Regions from separate parts of the Homo sapiens genome. Here all the other regions are linked to region 4. The links come from fine-mapping of genetic effects on gene expression. A gene starts in region 4. Each other region holds a variant in brackets. All regions are shown on one strand. Distances are from middle to middle.

Region 1 (5,177 bases), 55 kb before region 4:
TTTAAAAAAAAACTCTCCAGGTGATTCTCATGTGCAGCCAGAGTTGAAAACTGCTGCTGTACAGGGAGAAGACAGTTGAGGGTATGCAGTCGAGAGGGAGGTGGAAGGGCTATAACAGCATCTGCCATGCACAGCTCTGGCTGTGCCAGGCAAACTGCTAAGGCTGGGCATTTCAAGCTTCAATGGGCAGGCATAAGGATCACCAACAAGTTCCCAGGTGCTTTACAGGCATTGCTTCAAGGAATCCTCGTGACAAGCCTACAAGGCAGGTGCTAGCATTATTCCCACTTTACAGATAAGGGTACTGAGACACCAAGACGTTATCTGACTTGACTGAGGCGTGACAGAAAGGAAATGGTAGGTCTTGAAAATTAGGTCTTGATTCCAAAGTACTTATTCTTTAAAAAAATTATGATAAAATATACATAACATAAAATGTACCACTTTAATCATTTTAAAGTATTTACAATTTCATGGTATTCACAATGTTGTACAACTATCCATTTCCAGGAATTTTTCACCATCCCAAACAGAAACTCTTGTCCATTAAGCAATAATTCCCCATCTCCCCCTGTCCCCAGCCCCTAGTAACTTCTATTCTGCTTTTTCTTTATGAATCAAAGTACTCATTCTTAATCACTATGTTTCAGGATTGGCTCAAATATGAGATGGAGGTATCAAATTTGATCAAACTTTTTCCTTGAATTGATGGCATGTCTGAGCTAAGTGAGGCCACCATCAGCAATTTGTTCCCAAAATATGGAACAACTTGTAACTTCCCCCAAACAGCACATCCTCTTTTGCCTGTGTGCCAAAGCACATGCCAATTTGTCCAGGACATGTGCCTCTTCCCTCCTCGCCTTCATTTAGCAAACTCCATCTTCTTCTCTAAGTCTCTTGCCAGGCATGACCTCTCCTGGGGATCTGAATCAAGTGCTTCAACTAGTGTGGTCCCATAGACCAGGACTTCAAAAGCTGACATTCATTCCAATCACCTAGGGATCTTGTTAAAATGCAGATTCGCATTTACTGAGTCTGGCTCGGGGCACTAAGATTCTGCATTTCTTTCTTTCTTCAGACACAGCGTCTCACTTTGTTGCCCAGGCTGGAGCACAGTGGTGCAATCATAGCTCACTGAAGCCTCAAACTCCTGGGCTCAAGCCATCCATTCTGCTGCCTTAACTCTCAAGTAACTAGGACTACAGATGTGTGCCACCGCACCAGCTAATTTTTTTTTTTTTTTTGAGAGATGGGGTCTTGGTGTGTTGCCCAGGCAGTCCTCAATTTCTTGGCCTGAAGTGATACTCCCACCTCAGCCTCCCAAAGCTGAGATTAGAGATTTGAGCTACTGCCCTAGGACTTAGATTCTGCATTTCTACAGAGCTCCCAAGTGATAGTCATGCTGCTGGTCCCTGAACAACACCCTGAATAGTGAAGCCATAGGTTGTGGTGCTTTGCCATGGTACATATTGCTACAGCATCCCCTTGACTGTTTCTCTACTGCACTATAAATATCTTGAGGGCAAAAACTCATCTTATTATTATATTCCTGGAGCCTAACATTGTACTACCCACAGTGACAATAAATGTGAATAGAGCAATAGATAAACGAGCAAACAGCCTGGAAGGCTAGAAGGAACCAGATCTGTGAGGAACCTCATAAGCCACACTAAGAAATTTGAAATGTATCATGACATTACAGGCAGATACTGAAAGGTCTGAAAAGGGTGATAGATCAAATGTTTATGTGCAGTGTGTAAGATACGTTGGAAAGGACCAAGATTGAAGTCAAGGAAACCGTAGCAAGCTACTACACTAGTCTAAGCAAATAATTTTGAAGGCCTGAACTAAGGCAGTAATAGCAGGGAGAATGTAATGGGAAGAGGATTCAAGACCATATGGACGGGTTGACCATACATCCCCATTTGCTTCAGACAGTTTACCCTGGGTATGATTATTAGTAGTGTCCCATTTGCCCCCCAAAATGCCCTAATTTGGATGATAATTATCTATTCATACTGTACATAGGAGCCTTTTCTTTTTTTTCTTTGAGACGGAGTCTCCCTCACTCTGTCGCCCAGGCTGGAGTGCAGTGGTGCAATCTCCGCTCAATGCAACCTCCGCCTCCAGGGTTCAAGTGATTTTCCTGCCTCAGCCTCCCGAGTAGTTGGGATTAGAGGTGTGTGCCACCACGACGGCTAATTTTTGTATTTTTAGTAGAGACAGGGTTTCACTATGTTGGCCAGGCTGGTCTTGAACTCCTGACCTCAAATGATCCACCGGAGTGGGCCTCCAAAAGTGCTGGGATTACAAGTGTGAGCCACCACACCCGGCCAGGAGACAATGTTAATAGAACATGGGGTGTGGGCTTTGAGCAAAGTGAGATGTCTAGGATAATGCTCATGTTTCTGCCCTGGGTGACCCAACAGATGGTAATATCATTGACCAACCTAGGCAATCCAGGAGACAAAGCAGTAGGAGAAGTTTCTCTTTAAAATAAAAATATTTAAGTTAAGGAGCCATTGCAAAGTATTAAGTAAATTTTGGTACACAGCATGACAAGAAATTTCAAAAGAAGCACAGATGGCTG[A/TA]AGTTTGGAACACTGATGGAAGGTATCACCAAGTGAAAACATCCTCCCTCCCTGGCGCTCTGAATCAAATTAGTTTCAGAGCAATGTACTACATTAGGAAACCTTCCCTATGTGCTATTCAGACCAACTGCAGACGGGCTGTCACAAAGGCCAACGAATTCCGAGTTTTGTTTCTCACTCCTTATTCTCTTCCCTTCAAGTCATTGCTGTGAATGCTCCAAACAACTGGATCACAGTTGACTGCGGTCATTGAGACAGTCAATATAAAGATATACCAAGCCACGGCCAGGTTGAGTCTGAAGACCACATCGCTTGGTTCAACTGTCCTGAGTCAAAGGTCAGTAACACCAAAATGTTCCACCACATTTAAAAGCCTCATGACTCAAGATCCTTCCTAATCTCTACTCATATTTGCCAACATCTCAGCTTTTTTCTCCTGCCTACAACATTTCAACAAGTAGGTAATTATTTAATAAATCTCAGAACATACCTTTGCTTCTTCTGGCCAGAGACCTGGGGTTTTCCCGGTTTCAGTTTCAAGGTGGCTGTTATTTAAGGGTCCAAATGCAATCAAGCAGAAGAATAAATTCACCTGCTAGAGCCTTTTAAGAGAACTTTAAAACAAAACTGTAGCTTTTCAAGTATTAAAAGGAAATGAAAGACTGAACTAAGCTCAGTATTCATTTTAATATGCGTGTTAAAGGTTATGTTTGCAGCTGTCAAAGCACTGGCCAATTCTAAATACATCACTCTTCACCTTAAATCAGATGTCTTAGGTGGCACCCAGAACCTGCTACTCTGGGCTGACCCTGAGTAAAAGGATTGTTAAAGAAGGTGAAGTTAGTCTTCCAGGCTTTCCTGTCACTCATGCTGATATTAGCCTGATGAGCAAGGGAGAGCAAGAGAGCTGGAACCCAGGAGCCAGAGTCCTCACCACTTCCTGCTGCTGCTTCAGCTCCAAGAAGACTAACTTACATGCTGCTGATCTGATATCACATCCATACATGTGACAAGACTGAGGACTGAGGAAAACAACCCAATTCAAAAACGAACTGAACAGATGTTTCTCCAAAGAAGATATATAGGTGACCAATAAGCACATGAAAAAATGACCAACATCATTAATTCTTAGGGAAATGCAAACCAAAATACTATGAGATATCACCTCACACCCATTAGGAAGGCTACTAACCAAAAAAATGGAAAATATGTCAGGTGCTATGGTTTGTGCCTGTAATCCCAGCTACTTTAGAGGCTGAGGCATGAGGATCTCTTGAGCCAAGGAATTGGAGGCCAGCGTGGGTAACATACCAAGACCCTCAAATCTCAAATAAATAAATAAATAGGAAAAAACAAATGTTGGCGAGGATGTGAAGAAATTAGAATCCTTGTGCACTGTTGGTGGGACTGTAAAATGGTACAGCTGCTATGGAAAACAGTATGGTGGTTCCTCAAAAAATTAAAAATAGAATTTCCATATGATCCAGCAATCCCACTTCTTGGTATATACCCAGAAGAATTTAAAGCAGGGTCTCAAAGAAATATTTGTACACACATGTTTGTAGCAGCATTATTCACAATGTGGAAGCAACTGAAGTGTCCATCAACAGATGATTGGTAAACAAAGTGGGTATAAATGTACAATGGAATCTTACTAAGCCTTAATATGGAAAAAATTCCAACACATGCTACAACATGGATGGTGCTGAGACATTACGCTAAATGAAATAAGCCAGTCACAAAAAGAGAAATGCTGTATGATTCCACTTATATGAGGTATCTAGAATAGTCAAAATCATAGAGCCAGAAAGTAGAATAATGGTTGCCAGGGGCTGGGGCAAGAGGGAATCAGGAGTTATTGTTCAATGGGCACAGAGTTTCAGTTTTACAAGATGAAGAGGGTTCTGGAGATGGATGGTGGTGATGGTTGCACAACATTATGAATGTATTCAAAACCACTGAACTGCACACTTAAAAATGGCTACGACGGCCAGGCGTGCGTGGTGGTGGCTCACGCCTATAATCCTAACACTTTGGGAGGCCCAGACAAAAGGATCTCTTGAGTCCAGGAGTTTGAGGCCAGCCTAGGCAACATAGTGAGACCCTATCGCTACAAAAAATACAAAAATTAGCCAAGCACGGTGGTGCACACCTGTAGTCCCAGCTACTTGGGAGGCTGAGGTGGGAGGATCACTTGAGCCCAGAGGTTGAGGCTGCAGTGAGCCAAGATCACACCACTGCACTCCAGTCTGGGTGGCAGAGTGAGATCTGTCTCAAAAAAAAAAAATCACCAAGATGATAAAATTTATGTTATATTTTACCACAGTAAAGTAATAATAATGGTCACCAAGAGTGTTCAAACATAATAATAAAATGATAATAGTAATAAATTAAAATAACTTTTTTAAAAAGTGAGCACTGAGGACTTCTTTTACCCAGCCCTGTGATAGCCTAGATGGTCCTTTCCCTGGGCCTCACCATGACTTCTCCTTTGGGAAGTCCAGACAGACGGACGACAACCCCCAGTCCCTCTTACCGCACCATCCAGAAGCAAAAGATACCAGGAGTTGAGAGTCATAAGAACCCA
Region 2 (5,372 bases), 22 kb after region 4:
GGAGGTGGAGGTTGCAGTGGGCCAAGATGGTGACACTGCACTCCAGCCTAGGTGACAGAGTGAGACTGTCTCAAAAAAAAAAAAAAAAAGGATCAGTGAATATTAATCATTAATTGAGCCAGGGAATAGAAGAAGTCTGGAGGATTATGAATTTGGTTTTAGACATCCAACAGTTTGAGATGTCTGTAGGACACCTAGGTGAAGACAACTGCTAGATAGTTGGAAATTGACTTGGGAAACATCAGTGGAAAGGGGTTGGTATATATGAGATTACCAAAGAGCAAATGCTGCAGTGGAATCAGCACAAAGGGGAAAAGAAGAGGTCGGTTTGGGCAGATAAGCAGTCACTGGCAATCTTTGTAGGAATTTCAGGAGAGTGGTACAGATAGAAGCTGGATTGCATGGAACTGAAAAGTAAAGCAGTAGGTTCAGACTTCTATTCCAAGAAGATAGGTGGAGAAGCACAAGAAGACAAAATGGAGAGATACATTTGGGGGTTAGAACAGAATGCTTTCTGAGAGAGAATATGAAGACATAGCAGAAGTAAGTGATGAAGCAAGAGCAGGAGGAGGAGGAAGGAATTAATAGTAACAAAAATGTGTTTACTTCTCAGAAAATTTTCAGGTTTACCCATCTCAGCCATGTAATTCATGTGCCTGTGCTTAGACCGGATATATCATTCAGGAGTTCTTTCCATTCTGGCTAATTATAATGACCCCAAATCCTAAGGGGCTGGAGAGTTACATAATAGCACTGTAATGCATTGCAGTTCCAGTGAGAGGTTAACATGTGACTCAATGAATAACTCAGCTTGCTGACACATTTATGGACAATGAGCCATCTGAGCATTTCAGAAAAAATTATAGATCTACAGAAAGGTTCCTTAGAGGTCATCTAGTCTAATGCCTTGGATTTGTGCAAGAGGAAACTGTAAAACCAGAGAGGTAATGTGTGCATACTCACATATTATTTAGTGGCAGTCTCCTTCATAATGATCATAATCCAGGTTTTATGGTCTCATCCAGGACCTTTGTCCTCACATTTCTTTGGTTAAAGAATTAAAATAAGAGGCCGGGGGCAGTGGCTCACACCTGTAATCCCAGCACTTTGGGAGACTGAAGAGGCAGTATCACTTGAGGTCAGGAGTTCGAGACCAGCCTGGCCAACAGGGTGAAACCCCATCTCTACTAAAAATACACAAATTAGCCATGCGTGGTGTTGTGCACCTGTAGTCCCAGCTTTCAGGAGGCTGTGGCAGGAGAATCACTTGAGCCCGGGAGGTGGAGGTTGCAGTGAGCTGAGATCACGCTACTACACTCTAGCCTGGGTGACAGAGCAAGACATCATCTTTGAAAAAAAAAAAAGAATTAAAATAAGAAAAGTCTTATTTAAGATTGGCTCAAATTACTCATCAGCAGACCAAAATCTGAAGCATTAAGTATTCTGATTACTTTTTTATGTTTATTTTTTATAAACAGGTCTTTGTGGCAGAATGCATTCCAATTCCTATCAAGTGCAGTTTTCAGTGCTTTTGCTCAATTCTGTCGTTATTATGTCATCATTAATATGTATTGAGCTCCAATGTTTCAATATCAAAATTTAAATATTATGTGTTAGCCTGTTCTCATGCTGCTGTAAGGACATATCTGAGCCTGTGTAATTTATAAAGGAAAGAGGTTTAACTGGATCACAGTTCCACAGGGCTTGGGAGGCCTCAGGAAACTTATAATCATGGCAGAAGGGGAAGTAAACATGTCCTTCTTCACATGGTGGCAGCAGGAAGTGCAGAGTGAAGGTGGTGTAGGGGGGACGCTCTTTAAAACCATCAGATCTGGGGAAACTCACTCACTATCACGAGAACAGCATGGGGGTAACTGCCTCCATGATTCAATTACCTTCTACTAGGTCTCTCCCATGACACGTGGGGATTATGGGAACTCTAGTTCAAAATGAGATTTGAGTGGGGACACAGCCAGACCATATCATATATCTTAGCTATGTAAAAACATGTACTCTTGATTTTGTATAATTAATCTAAAAAGAGAAGAGGAGCAGAAGACACTCAAATTTGATAGTTAAAGGGTGATATAAATGTTGTACCTCCCCAAATAGTTTTTTCTCTATAAACTTTTTCCCGTTCTTGCAAACATTCCTCACTTTGGGACTAGGAGATGTTTATTGCCTCAGGGAAAAGAAAGAGAAGAACTAGCTTTAGGTCAAGGAAGAAAAACAAAAATTCTAAAAGGGACGTCTACCCAGAGGGAAGCCTTCCTCTGGTCTAGTGGTGCAGGGTGTAGAAGATGTGCAGGAAGAGATTAGACACCAAGACCCTTGCTTTACACATAGCTCCTTCTCCCTGTT[G/C]AAACTCAAGGGGTTGTAGTGATAAGTGTTAGCCAGCTTGCTTTAGGCAGACAGTAAGGGAAGGGTCCCCGGAGAACCTCCCACCCACCCTACAAGTGCTTACACCAGATGTTTTGTGCAGATAAGGGAACTTGCACGGGGAGCTTGCCTAAACATGCCTGCAGTGGAAAATTCCATTCCTTAACACATACACAGTAAGGGAAATAAATCAATATGGAGCTGCTCAGTCCAAGGGCCTGCATCAGCACTGGAAGGACAGGGTGGAGCCACCAGAAATTCATGCCTTAAGCCCTGGTATTCAACTGTGAAGGGGGCAACCAGTAAACTGCTTTCAGGTCCCCTCTTTTTGCTGAGAGCTTTCCTTTCACTTAATAAATTCTGCTCCACTCACTCTTCAAGTGTCTGCATGCCTAATTCTTCCTGGTTGTGAGATGAGAACCCAGACCTAGTGGTGGTAAGGAATAAAAAATCCTGCATCAGTAGCTGATTAGAAAAGTGAAAACCCAGTTTATGTTGAAGAGAGAAAATATATGTAAAGACAGATTTAACCTGACTTCTTGTTTTGAAATGGAGAGAACACCACTGCAGAGTGCACCTAGGCTTACGGTGATGTAATGGTAGCCTAATTAGCCTAATTCAACAGTGCAGACCTCCCTTGATGACTTGGAAGAGAGTCAAAAGACCCCTTTTCAGCATCCTTTTTGGGGAAGTGAAAGGTAATTGAGTGTGACCTGCCATTGGGTCACCATGAGGAAGTGGGTAGACAGGGACCTGATAACCTCTACCACATGTCTGAGGGAGGCAGTGGCTGAGCCTTGAAGGGATGCAAAAGTGAGGTCAAGTCACATTTGTAGATCAATGGGCCCTACCACAACTGATATGGTTTGGCTGTGTCCTCACCCAAATCTCACCTTGAATTGTAATAATCCCCAGGTGTCAAGGGCAGGGACAGGTGGAGATAATTGAATCATAGGGCATTTTCACCCATACTATTCCTGTGGTAGTGAATAAGTCTCTCAAGATCTGATGGTTTTATAAAGGGCAGTTTCCCTGCACAAGCTCTCTTGCCTGCCACTGTGAAAGACATGCCTTTGCTCCTCACTCGTCTACCGCCATGATAGTGAGGCCTCCCAGCCATGCGGAACTGAGTCAACTAAACCTCTTTTCTTTATAAATTACCCAGTCTCAGGTATGTCTTTACTAGCAGTGCGAGAACAGACTAATATACGCCAACCAAGAGGACAGACCAATAGTCATACTGCACACTCTAGCAGCAAATGTCCCCAGTGTCCCAGTGGCTGAGCATAACCAGGGTATCAATACTAAGTTGAGCAAAAACCTTGAAGCCTACAAGGATTCCAAAGCCTATGGAGAGACTCATTTATGGGTAAATGTGCCAAGAGTGCACATGGCTTGCCCATGGAACCCTGACACCTTGAAAAGTAAGAGAAAGAAGGATGAAATGGCTCTGATGTGGAGTTAAATATTAGATTATTTAATATTTACTCAGCAAGAGATAATCTTAACCATCTTGCAGAGACTAACGGACCTTTATTTGACAAGTTTAACTCCTGCGGCATCCTACTTCTCTGCCTTCCTCCTCCCTCAAACCAAATGGAGTTTACTGAGAATGTTTAGATCAATTATAAACAGAGACAAAGGAGTAACAGTTGTGGCCTATGGGAGTTGCGGTATTTAAATTTTTAACCTTATGCTGAGCATGGTGGCTCACACCTATAATCCCAGTATTTTGGGAAGCTGAGGCAGGTGGATCACTTGAGGCCAGGAGTTCGAGACCAGCTGGGCCAACATGGCAAAACCTGTCTCTACTAAAAATACAAAAAAAATTGGCTGGACGTGATGGCTCCTACCTGTAATCCTAGCACTTTGGGAGGCCAAGGCGGGCGGATCACCTGAGGTCAGGAGTTCGAGACCAGCCTGGCCAGCATGGCGAAACCCCGCCTCTACTAAAAATACAAAAATGAGCTGGGCGTGGTGGTGGGGAGCCTGTAATCCCAGCTACTTGGGAGGCTGAGAGAGGAGAATTGCCTGAACCCGGGAGACAGAGGTTGCAGTGAGCAGAGATCGCACCACTGCACTCCAGCCTGGGCAACAAAGAGCGAAACTCTGTCTAAACAAAAAAAAAAAAAAAAAATGAGCTGGGCGTAGGGGTGCAGGCCTGTGATCCCAGCTACTCAGGAGGCTGAGGCAGGAGAATCACTTGAACCTGGGAGGCAGAGGTTGCAGTGAGCTGAGATCACGCCACTGCACTTCAGCCTGGGTGACAGAGGAACACTGTCTCAAAAACTAATAATAATAAAATAACAAAATGAATAAATAAAATTTTAACCTTATAACACTTGCTATGTATCAGGCACCATGCTGAGATCTTTATGTGCATTATCTCATTTGATCCACACAGCAGCCTTGTAAGTTATTATTATACCCATTTTACACATGAGGAAACTGAGACTTAGAAATGATAAGAGGAGACCTGGTATCAAGTCACACTGATTGATTCCAGAGGCTATGTTTTTGATGTTTCCCTGTAGGTCTCTATGTTTTCCCTGTAGGTCAAGTAGGATACTTAATGAAAGAATAAACACTTCAATCATCACTGATTGATTGAGGTTTTATATACCACCCTAAACTTTTATGTCTCTGAAATTCCAAGTGTCATTCATTCATTCAACAAATATTTTTGAGTACTTACTATGTGTCAGTCCCTGGGCTTAGCAATAGGTGTATAATGGTTAATAAACTGCATTTGACAAAATCGGGGTGGTCACCCAAAAGGAAATCAGGATCTCTTGCCCTGATGTTGAACCTAAGTCAGTTTTCAGACCTGGTACTGGTGGACTGAAGAGGTGGCCAGGTCCCCAGAATAAAGAACCCTGAAACATCATCTTGAGTATATTCTGTAATGATTTTCAGTCCTTTATCAAAAAGACCAGTGGTCATTTACTGAGGTAGCTGTGCACTGGGGAAAGAGGAATACCCAGAGGCATTCA
Region 3 (5,000 bases), 44 kb before region 4:
CTAACACAGTGAAACCCCATCTCTACTAAAATACAAAAAATTAGCTGGGCGTGGTGGTGGGCGCCTGTAGTCCCAGCTACTCGGGAGGCTGAGGCAGGAGAATCCCTTGAACCCAGGAGGCAGAGGTTGCAGTGAGCCGAGATCGCGCCACTGCACTCCAGCCTGGGCAACAGAAAGAGACTCCATCTCAAAAACAGAAAAACAAATTTTAAAATAAATATTTCATTTCATTTAACTATTTCAGCCATAAGGTACAAGGAAATGCAAGTTCATGGATATTAGAAATAATACCAAAATCCGAATAAGACCGGGTTTAGAGGTCGCATGGAATCTGCTGAATATGGTTGTCTGGAGTGATTTTTTTGGCCTTCTCAGTTTGCCAAGACAGGTAGGTGTACCATTTGGTCTAGCCCGTGTAACAATTTTCTGTGGTAACTGTCCAGGTTGAAGATTGTTGTCATAGAATGGTGATGCCGAAACAACTGAAATGTTTACAGTACACAAAGAAAAACAGTCAACATTACCAGGCGATACAGACTATTTGTTTATTATGAAACTAACTGGTAAAGCAGAGTAAATCCCATTCTATATTATAGCACTACAAACATCCTTAGTCATTCCTTCATTTGTTCATTCATTCATTCATGCATTCAGTGAGTATTTCTTAAGCTCCTACAGTGTACCAGGAGGCACTCTGTTCATTGTGGCATTACAAAGATAAAGATTAAGGCACGTACTCTGCCCTCAAGGAGCTCCCAATCTAATTGTGCAGAGAGATGTGAAAATGAAGCATGAAACTCCATCGTGAGGAGCGCCGAGAACAAAAGTCTGCTCGAAGTGAGGCAGAAGTATGGATTCATTCCACCACAGGTCCCATGGGAAAGGTATGTGGCATTTCTCCTCCTCTTCAGAATAATGAATGCTTGACATAGCTTTCATCACTGTCTTTCAGTTCCAGTGTTACAAGGGGGATCCCCAGCACTACAGTGAGTCGCAGTGAACCCAGAAATGATTAGCATTCTCTTTATTCATTTATTTATTTATTTATTTTTGAGACAGGGTCTCACTCTGTTGCCCAGACTGGAGTGCATTGGCATGGCTCACTGCAGCCTCCACCTCCTGGGCTCAGGTGATTCTCCCACCTCAGCCTCCCAAGTAACTAGGACTACAGGCACACCACCGCACTTGGCTAATTTTTGTATTTTTGTTGTAGAGATGGGATTTTGCCATGTTTCCCAGTCTGGTCTCGAAGTCCCAGGCTCAAGCAATCCTCCTGCCTAGGCCTCCCAAAGTGCTGGGAATACAGGTGTGAGCCACCACAGCCAGCCAGCATTCTTAATGTTTTCTTACAAAGGTGTATCTCTGTCAAACTCTTCCATTCACTTAAAGAAAACCATTTATGATGCGTCTTAAAGAAAGCATGCTTACATTTGCCTTTTATTGCCAGATTTCTCTACTTGGCTTTATTAAAGGGCCCAAATGGCAGCGGTAGGGGTGTCGGACATGTTCTAATAACATATGCTAAACACATAGAGGGGAGGCAGCTTGTCATTGCAGAGGTACCTGCCACTGAGCCTCACCCCTTTACTCACCCAACAAATAGTTAATGAGGAGCTACCCCGAACTCCCTACACCCCCATGCCCTCCGAAGCTGTCTACATGGGCTGCTCTGCCCTTGGCATGTGCCCTTGAGGGCTGATCTCACTTGGCCACACATGGGTTTATGCTCTAGGATTTGAAAGAGAGAATTCCTGCTCTTCACCTTTCAAGCCTAAGCCTTAACATTTCAAGGGCTGCTTCTTCCTCTGGAATAACTTGCTTTTTATTGGTCATTCATGATTTGGGTGAAAAGATGGAGTCTGTAGTTCTTGCTTAACACAAAGGGCTTGACTTATATTTCTTA[T/C]AGTGTTGTGGGACATCCAGCCACAGGCATGAAGAGAAGGAGCAAATAAACAGTACCCTGAACCCAGAAGTTCTTCTTGGCTGCCCCCTTCTCCATTCTTCTTGTCTCGCTCTTGGGCCTTTCTTCTCTTTGCCACATTTACTGGCATGAAATGAATTTGAGATGTGAGCTTCAGTTCTGAGTCAGACTATATATCAAGTTGTGCCAGCAACAATAAAGGATGGTTTTCACCTGACTTGTTGAAACCATTCCACCTGGCATTACACCCACTACGAATGGGCAATTAGCAGCAAGAGCAAAAGGTGCGACCTCATGAGCAGGGAGAAACAAGGTGGCAGAATTTCAAAACCAAGGTCTTCCGTATTCACTTAGAGTTACTGTACATGGTGGTATAAAGGCCTCTCAGTAGAAGCACTTTGTTTAGTTCGGCTAAAAATCAGAGTATCTTAGTGTTAATGTATCAACTAAATCTTTATGATTTGGGTATATGATCTTTATAAATTGAATTTTATAAGTGCTCTCCTGATAAAAAAAATTATACAGTTCATTCACTAAGAATAAAATTTACAAATGAATATCCCCTGATTTCACTTTGTAATAAATGTACTGAACCTGAATTACTCATTTAGTGTATTTCCATAAATCTCACACAAATAAAACAAAAACGACAGAATCTGTACAAAAATAAGAGCTCTCCATTTTTTGTAACACCTTATTTTTTCTGTATATGAATTTGTTAATATAAAAAAATCTACTTAGAAAATTATAAAAACATCACTACAGTGTCATAAGGCTGTACATTCTCTAGGAAACACATCTTTAGAAATACAACTATTAGGAACTCGTAATGAAATTCAAGTCCTGGATGTGCTGCAGATGCATCCCAATAATCAGGGTGGCCTCAAAACCCTGTCTGTCCTCTGTAGCACTTTTAGAAATGGCCTGCGACATTCACTGAGTGAGACTGAATTCTTCTTTCTTCAAATATCACCATTGATTTCTGTGGATATCCTTAGGGTGACACTCTATTTTTAAAAATGAAAGAGAAAGGTTTAAAAGAAGTTAAACAATCCCAGCGTTGACAATGACATTTCCAACAGCTCTGCACCACCTAAGGAATGATCTCACTATGGTTTGTGCTATGCTTGAGTCAGGTCCTAAAGAATTTTCTTGGCTTTCTATATCCTTTGAGCTAATAATTCACTTGTTTCAAAATGTAAGATTTTTCCTGTGGACAAATCTGATATAGTCCCATCTTCTATCTGCTTTGGGAATGTTTTTTGAACAACACACTTTTATTTTTTATTTATTCATTTATTTATTTATTTTGAGATAGAGTCTCGCTCTTGTTGCCCAAGCTGGAGTGCAATGGCATGATCTCAGCTCACGACAACCTCCGCCTCCCGGGTTCAAGTGATTCTCCTGCCTCAGCCTCCTGAGTAGCTGGGAATACAGGCATGTGCCACCACCCCCAGCTAATTTTGTATTTTTAGTAGAGACGGGGTTTCTCCATGTTGGTCAGGCTGGTCTCGAACTCCTGACCTCAGGTGATCTGCCCGCCTCGGCCTCCCAAAGTGCTGGGATTACAGATGTGAACCACCACACCTGGCATACTTTTATTTTTAAAAAAGATATATTTACTTTGTATTATTTGGAACTAGTAAGTGAGACCTCCTAAAAGAAAACAACCAGGATACATGACTATTAACATCAAACAGCAGAGGACATATGAAAATCTCATTGGTGGGAGAGCTATTAAAGATGCCTCCCATTGGGAATAAGCTAACACATGAAGTTGCACAATCCTTACAGATTTTTCTCAAACACATTAAGGATAAAAAGAAAGTGCTCTTTTTGCAGTGAGCCGAGATTGCGCCACTGCAGTCCGCAGTCCGGCCTGGGCGACAGAGCGAGACTCCGTCTCAAAAAAAAAAAAAAAAAAAGAAAGTGCTCTTTTTAAAAATGCAAAATGTCTTCTGCAAATTTTTACTAATCCTAATTGTCCGCAATTTAAAACATTTGAATTGATAAACACCTACCTGGAAATCTTGGATGAAAGTTAGGAAGTAGAAAATAAAACCAAAGGCCACTGTCCATTCACAGATCGCACTCACTACGTGATATACATAATCCTAATGCAATAATAAAGAAACAGAATTTAGCCGAAAAAGACTCACTTTAATGTACATACTGAAATACAATGAGGAGTTTCAACCAAAGGAAAAAGCTGTCCAGTGAGCATAAGTCAGAACTTTGAGGATATACGGTAAGCACAACCACGTTACTAAGTGTCAGGGCACCTGCCCACTGAGAATGCGAAGGCAGGTATTCCAAAGTTCTTTCTGGCTCGCACAAACTCTTGTTTTAAGATTTAGTTTGTCACTTCAAAAGGTAGACTAAGGACTGCAAAATGGCTGAGACTGGGAAGCAAATTTGGACTCAACAGAAGAAAGAAATTTCCATACAAGGCATGACTTGGTCTCGCTCTGCTGAGAATCCCTAAGTGTAAGGCTATGCTTAACAAGCACTCTCGCAGTTGTTCCAAAGAAAGTGTGTACACATCTAGATGAACTTGGCCAACTAGTCCCCTAGGTTTCGTGTTTCCCTGTTTATATAGAAATGATCATTCAGGAAATAGTTCTGCTTAACATCCCAAGGTAAATACAGCTACAAAGAAAATGCTAATAATGGACATCCACATGTTAACTGTATATCTTCTTGGAGGCAAGAATGGGAGAATGGAAGCCAAGGAGAATGGCTTCAATCAGATGTTCCAAACTCAGTTGCCTATGGAGGCCAGAAAATTAACAATAATAAATAAAACTGATGGTTGTGAAAAGAGAGGGAAGTTAGGGAGCCCACGCCTCATCAGCTCAATTCCATGGGAAAATAATACACTAGTGTTGCTTTCAAAGGGGTTTAAAAAAACAAAACCGTGTGTGTGTGTGTGTGTGTGCGTGTGTGTGTCTGTGTGTCTGTGGATGTGTCTGTGTGTGATATCTCCTGATTTTTCAGTGCTGGAAACTAATTTTAAAACTCTGTTGCAATGGCTCACACCTGTAATCTCAGCACTTTGGAAGGCTGAGGCAGGAGGATC
Region 4 (5,372 bases):
AATACAAAAATATTAGCTGGGCGTGGTGGCAGGTGCCTGTAATCCCAGCTACTTGGGAGGCTGAGTCAGGAGAATTGCTTGAACCAGGAGGTGGAGGTTGCACTGAGCCGAGATTGCACCATTGCACTCCAGCCTGGGCGACAGAGCAAGACTCTGTCTTAAAAAAAAAAAAAAAAAAAAAAAAAAAGGAAGCATTGCAGGACACAGCAAGATGCCATCTCTACAAATACAAAAAAAAATTAAAAATTAGCTGGGCATGGTTGTGCATGCCTATCTACAGTCCCCAGCTATTCAGGAGGCTGAGGTGGGAGGATCAATGGAGCCCAGGAGGTCGAGGCTGCAGTGAGCTGTGATCCCACCACCACACCACAGACTGGGCAACAGAGCGAGACTTTGTCTGAAAAAACAAACAAACAAACAAACAAAAGAAGCAGCACTGCAGGTAGAGCAGCTCTTTACCTTTTTTTTTTTTTTCTGAGATGGAGTCTCGCTCTGTCACCAGGCTGGAGTGCAGTAGCTCTGTCTCGGCTCACTGCAACCTCTGCCTCCCGGGTTCAAGCAATTCTGCCTCAGCCTCCCGAGTAGCTGGGACTACAGGCGTGCACCACCACGCCCAGCTAATTTCTGTATTTTTAGTAGAGATGAGGTTTTACCATGTTGGCCAGGATGGTCTCGATCTCTTGACCTCATGATCCGCCAGCCTCGGCCTCCCAAAGTGCTGGGATTACAGGCGTGAGCCACTGTGCCCAGCTGAGCAGGTCTTTACTTTTACACAAGTCTAGAAGGATCTATCCTGCTTCAGAAGCAAGATGATGGCACTTGGGCCTGAGATGTGCCATGAGAAACCAAGCCTAGGTTTCTTCCAAGCATAATACCAGATGGGAGGGCCAGGCGTGGTGGCTCACGCCTGTAATCCCAACACTCTGGGAGGCCAAAGCAAGGGGAATGCTTGAGCCCAGGAGTTTAAGACCAGCCTGGGCAATATAGTGAGACTTTGTCTCTACTGAAAATAAAAAATAATAACAATAAATGGAAAAAACCGAAAGGCCAGATGAGAACATCTTGATATACATAACATCTCCTTTCATAGGCAAAAACCACCATCATTACTGCAAATTTGCACTATTCTACCTATTGCTGTATTCCCTGCATCTTGTAAATGCTGGTTCCCTGGGAACACTGGCTCACACCTGTAATCCTAGCATTTTGGGAGGCCAAGGCAAGAGGATCACTTGAGGTCAGGAATTTGAGACCAGCCTGACCAACATAGTGAAACCCTGTCTCTACTAAAAATACAAAAAAATTAAGCCAGGTGTGGTGGTGCACGCCTGTAATCTCAGCTACTTGGGAGGCTGAGGCAGGAGAATCGCTTGAACCCGGGAGGCAGAGGTTGCGGTGAGCCGAGATTGTGTCACTGCACTCCAGCCTGGGCGACAGAACAAGACTCTGTCTCAAAAAAATAAAAAAAATTTTAAAAAATGCTAGTCCCCTCTTGCTCGATCTTTGTTTCCCCTTTCTCCACACTCCTCACCCCCACCCCCAAAAAAAGGAAAAAAACAAACAAACAAACAAAAAAACACAGAACATTGCTCACCAGACAGAATGGCTGCAGGGAAGAAGACGCCCTACATTTTCTATCATAGCAGTAACAAACCTTGGGTGTCACCAACCTTATCATCCGTTCACCAACCAATGCCTGTCCAGAGGGGTCACACTACTTAGATAAGGATGGATGGTTCTAACGTTTAAAGAATCCTGCCACTATGAGAAAGGCACTGAGCTGGAACCCACATAGGAGGATCAGACCACTGTCCCTGGCACTGAAGTGCCCCTCAGGAAGGTAGAGGCCAAAGCACAGGAAAAGTGAATGGGTAAAATAACACAAAAGATGTCACAAGTTGTTGACAAGTTGAGGACTTTGGGGTCACAGTGCCCAGAGGTGTCTGGTGCAGCTCCAGAGAATTTAAGCCAGACTCCCAGAGACCTGGGGGCAGCACAGTGTTGCTTTCTGCATGGCCGGGTGTGAATTCTGCTCCTACCATTAACTAGTGTGACATCAGTGTCACGTTGATGATATTTCATCAACTTTACACCACCGCTCGCTTGCGGGAATAATAAGCCCAAACATCCACTTCAAGGGATGTTGGGATGCAGAAGTGAAAATAGTGGCTGTTTAGCATATACCTGGATCTACCTCTTGTATAATATATGTCATCTATCAGAACCCATCTTGTTTCAATATCGCCTAAGAACGTCCTGCTGAGATTCTGTCCCATACCCAGAATGAAAGCTCTACCATCTATCCTGAACCTCTCCTTGCTGCCACCCTGTTCCATGCTCCGGGTACAGGCAGAAGTGCTCAGCGCCGCACCCGCTGCCTCCCTAAACATCCCAGGCTATCGGGAGCACCTCTCCTCCTGCTCCCACCTCTGCCTGACCACACGACGCCCCAAGCTGGGTCCGGACGCCTTCCCTCCCCGTCGGCAGCGCTCCCTGTGGTCCCTGTGCCTGCTCCTGGGGCCCTGACGCCCACCCTGCCACTCACCTGATATACGGGAGGAAGGGGTTGACGTGCCCGGAGAGCACGGCGACCACGTAGGAGATAATGAAGGCGGCTGACGACCAGGTCACCAAGAGGAAGGGGACGAAAGCCATTCCCCTCAGGAAGCACAGCATCGCGCCGCCGCCGCCGCCGACGGAGTGCTGCGCCCAGCGGGGCCGGGCGCCGGGTTGCTCCGGGCTGCCTGGAGGCGGCGGCCGGGCGCGTACACTCACGGACGGTGGGAGGGGAGGCTCCGCGACGGCCGGGGCAGGCCCAGCCCCGGAGGGAGGGGAAGCGCGAGGAGCGGAGCGAGGCTGCGGGCGGCGAGGCTGCCGGGCCAGAGTGGGTGGGGCGCGGGCTGCCCGGGCTTGTTGCGAAACGAGTGAAGTCACAAAGCGGCCCGGCAGGGTCGGAGGCGCCCGGCGAGCTCCAAGCGGACGCGACTACGGAGCCGCCGGAGGGGACGCGGGGTCGGGTTCCTTTCGCTTTTGGTTTGGACACTCGGCGGAGGCCGGGTTGGGCGCGGACGGGCGGCGTGGGGTCACTGGCGGGGACGCCCGCTCTGGCCTTCCCACTCTGGCCCTACCGCGCTGGCTCTTGCGCAACTCTGGAGAAAAGGATTTATTTCTCCCAACCCCTCCCTCCCGGGGGATTTCCGGAGTGCCGGGCCTCGCACCCCGAGGGCGCCCCCTCCGAGGTCCCGCCGCCGGCGCTTCGCAGCAGTGAGAGTGGCCACCGCGTGGTGACACCCATGCCATCCGGTCGCGCTGCTGCTGCGGGGGTCGGGCAGAAGTGTTCAATGAGGTTCGCCAGGTCACGGGGCGCAGATGTGGCTCCCACCTCAATGGTGAACACCCGAAAACCCAGACAGGGTGGGAACGGGTGGGGTGGAGAGTACGCGGGTGGGGTGCGGGGCAGGCGGGTGGGACTGCGCGCCCACGGAGCCGGGAGGCCCATTGTGCTGCTTTCCAGGAGAGCGCAACTGGAGAATATTTCCTGGAAATAAGATTTCCCAGGCCGGGCGCCGTGAATAGCCATCACTTTGGGAGGCATCCAAAAGCCATCACCCCTGGAATGCCACCACTTTGGGAGGCCGAGTTGGGAGGATCGCTTGAACCCAAGAACTAGAGATCAGCCTGGGTAACATAGCGAAACCCCTCTTCTACAAAAAAAAAAAAAAAAAATGAAAAAGAAAAAAAGCCGGTTCCAGTTACTCGGGAGACTGAGTTGGGATGATCACTTGAGCCTTGGGGGTCGAGGCTGCAGTGAGCCTTTATCACACCACTTCACTCGGCCTGGGTGACAGAGCAAGACCTTGTCTCAAAAAACAAACAAACAAAAAAAAAACAAAAAAAACTCCCCTCCAGGTTCTGGAGTAGCCCAGACTCGGAGCCTTGGCCTAAGATGATTAATAGTGACTTGATACATTTCAAGCCCTGTGAAAGGGATTTGTGTTCTGGAGGCACTTATAATATAAGCACATGATTTTGATAGTTTAGGGAGTCTGAGCCCAACATATGTGGCCAAAATTGTTGGGTCATTGGTGACCAAAGATAGGTTCCTTTCAGCCACAAACACATTTCATGGGCGCCATGCTAGGCTACAAAGATGAAATAGTAATAGTACCCTCAGGACGAGGACACTCATAGATCAAAATAACAAAATTAGGCCAGGCGTGGTGGCTCATGCCTGTAATCCTAGCACTTTGGGAGGCCAAGGTGGGTGGATCACCTGAGGTCAGGAGTTCGAGACCAGCCTGGCCAACATGGTGAAACCCCATCTCTACTAAAAATACAAAAAATTAGTCAGGCATCATGGCTCACGCCTGTAATCCCAGCTACTCAGGAGGCTGAGGCAGGAGAATCGCTTGAACCTGGGAAATGGAGGTTTTCTCAGTGAGCTGAGATCACACCACTGCATTTCAGCCTGGGTGAGAGAACGAGACTCTGTCTCAAAAATATAAATAAATAAAAACAAAATTATGTTATGTGGTTTATTAAATGGAAAGGAGAGGATTTTAAAAAGTAGAGACATGCCCAGAGCTGAGGGCCAGGGGCCTGGGCTCAGAGGAAGGACCACGGAGGTTTTCTGACAGATGACATCAGAGTTTTCAAAAGGAAGTAATTACTAACCAGGCAAAGAAAAATAAGATTAGCATTCCAGGCCCAGAAAACAACTGGAGGAAATGCATACACAGAGCTTGCTTCCCTGGGACTATGAAAGCACTTAAATAAGTGTGAGGCAGCAAATGGAGAGAGAAACAAAGAGGCAAAGTCACCAGAGTCCTGCTGAGAATCTTGGATTATTTTTGGTATTAAGGAGAAAGTAAGAACATGGGCAGACTAGTATTTCAAGAGATCACTGTGGCCGTGGAGTGAGTGCCCGCCATACAAAACAAAATAGAAAATTTAAAATAAGGCTTTTTAAAAACCACAAAAGCTGGCCAGGCATGGTAGCTCACAGTTCTGTAATCCCGGCGCTTTGGGAGGCCGAAGCCTGGACAATATAGTGAGACCCGCAACCATATCTACAAAAAATTTAAAAATTAGCTGGGTGTGGTGTTGCATAACCTGTGGTTCCAGCTACATGAGAGGCTTACGTGGGAGGCTCACTTGAGCCCGGAGTTTGAGGCTGCAGTGAGCTATGATCACACCACTGAACTCCAGCCTGGATCACAGATCGAGACTCTATTTCAAAAACAAATAAAAATTTAAAAATGGTCAGGTGCAATGTAATCCCAGCACTTTAGGAGGTTGAGGCAGGCACATGACCTGAGGTCAGGAGTTCGAGACCAGCCTGGCCAATATGATGAAGCCCTGTCTCTACTGAA

Which allele goes with the higher level. Alleles are on the strand shown, and positions count from the first base shown. SD is a standard deviation of normalised expression in the study named. Not every link is listed here.
In carriers of allele G in region 2, the expression in lymphoblastoid cells of the gene that starts at base 2,886 in region 4 tends to be higher than with C alone (large effect, 0.85 SD a copy in TwinsUK).

Evidence for each region. PIP is the estimated chance that this variant, and not a neighbour inherited with it, causes the effect.
Region 1: its variant is the best candidate, but not a certain one, in a credible set for the expression of DRAM1 in skeletal muscle (GTEx, PIP 0.67).
Region 2: its variant is the best candidate, but not a certain one, in a credible set for the expression of DRAM1 in lymphoblastoid cells (TwinsUK, PIP 0.61).
Region 3: its variant is the best candidate, but not a certain one, in a credible set for the expression of DRAM1 in whole blood (INTERVAL, PIP 0.87).

What each region holds. Positions count from the first base shown.
Region 1 is chr12:101,930,014-101,935,190 of GRCh38, reverse strand. No RefSeq gene overlaps it. Among named protein-coding and RNA genes, the nearest start is that of DRAM1-AS1, 32 kb to the left of the region's middle. RefSeq lists enhancers at 3,051-3,160, 3,521-3,640, 4,460-4,539 and a silencer at 4,750-4,799. The variant A/TA (reference allele first, on the strand shown) is at 2,591.
Region 2 is chr12:101,852,650-101,858,021 of GRCh38, reverse strand. No RefSeq gene overlaps it. Among named protein-coding and RNA genes, the nearest start is that of DRAM1, 22 kb to the left of the region's middle. RefSeq lists cis regulatory regions at 2,084-2,760, 3,013-3,230 and an enhancer at 2,740-3,239. The variant G/C (reference allele first, on the strand shown) is at 2,362.
Region 3 is chr12:101,919,144-101,924,143 of GRCh38, reverse strand. DRAM1 (DNA damage regulated autophagy modulator 1) reads right to left here. Exons shown (of 7, transcript NM_018370.3): 6 at 3,943-4,035; 7 at 532-2,928. The coding sequence ends at 2,884. Among named protein-coding and RNA genes, the nearest start is that of DRAM1-AS1, 43 kb to the left of the region's middle. RefSeq lists an enhancer at 1-800. The variant T/C (reference allele first, on the strand shown) is at 1,904.
Region 4 is chr12:101,875,094-101,880,465 of GRCh38, reverse strand. It overlaps DRAM1 (DNA damage regulated autophagy modulator 1), which reads right to left and starts at 2,886. Exons shown (of 7, transcript NM_018370.3): 1 at 2,546-2,886. The coding sequence starts at 2,676. RefSeq lists enhancers at 2,000-2,049, 2,190-2,279, 1,918-2,699, 2,860-2,909, 2,700-3,482 and silencers at 2,500-2,839, 3,090-3,249.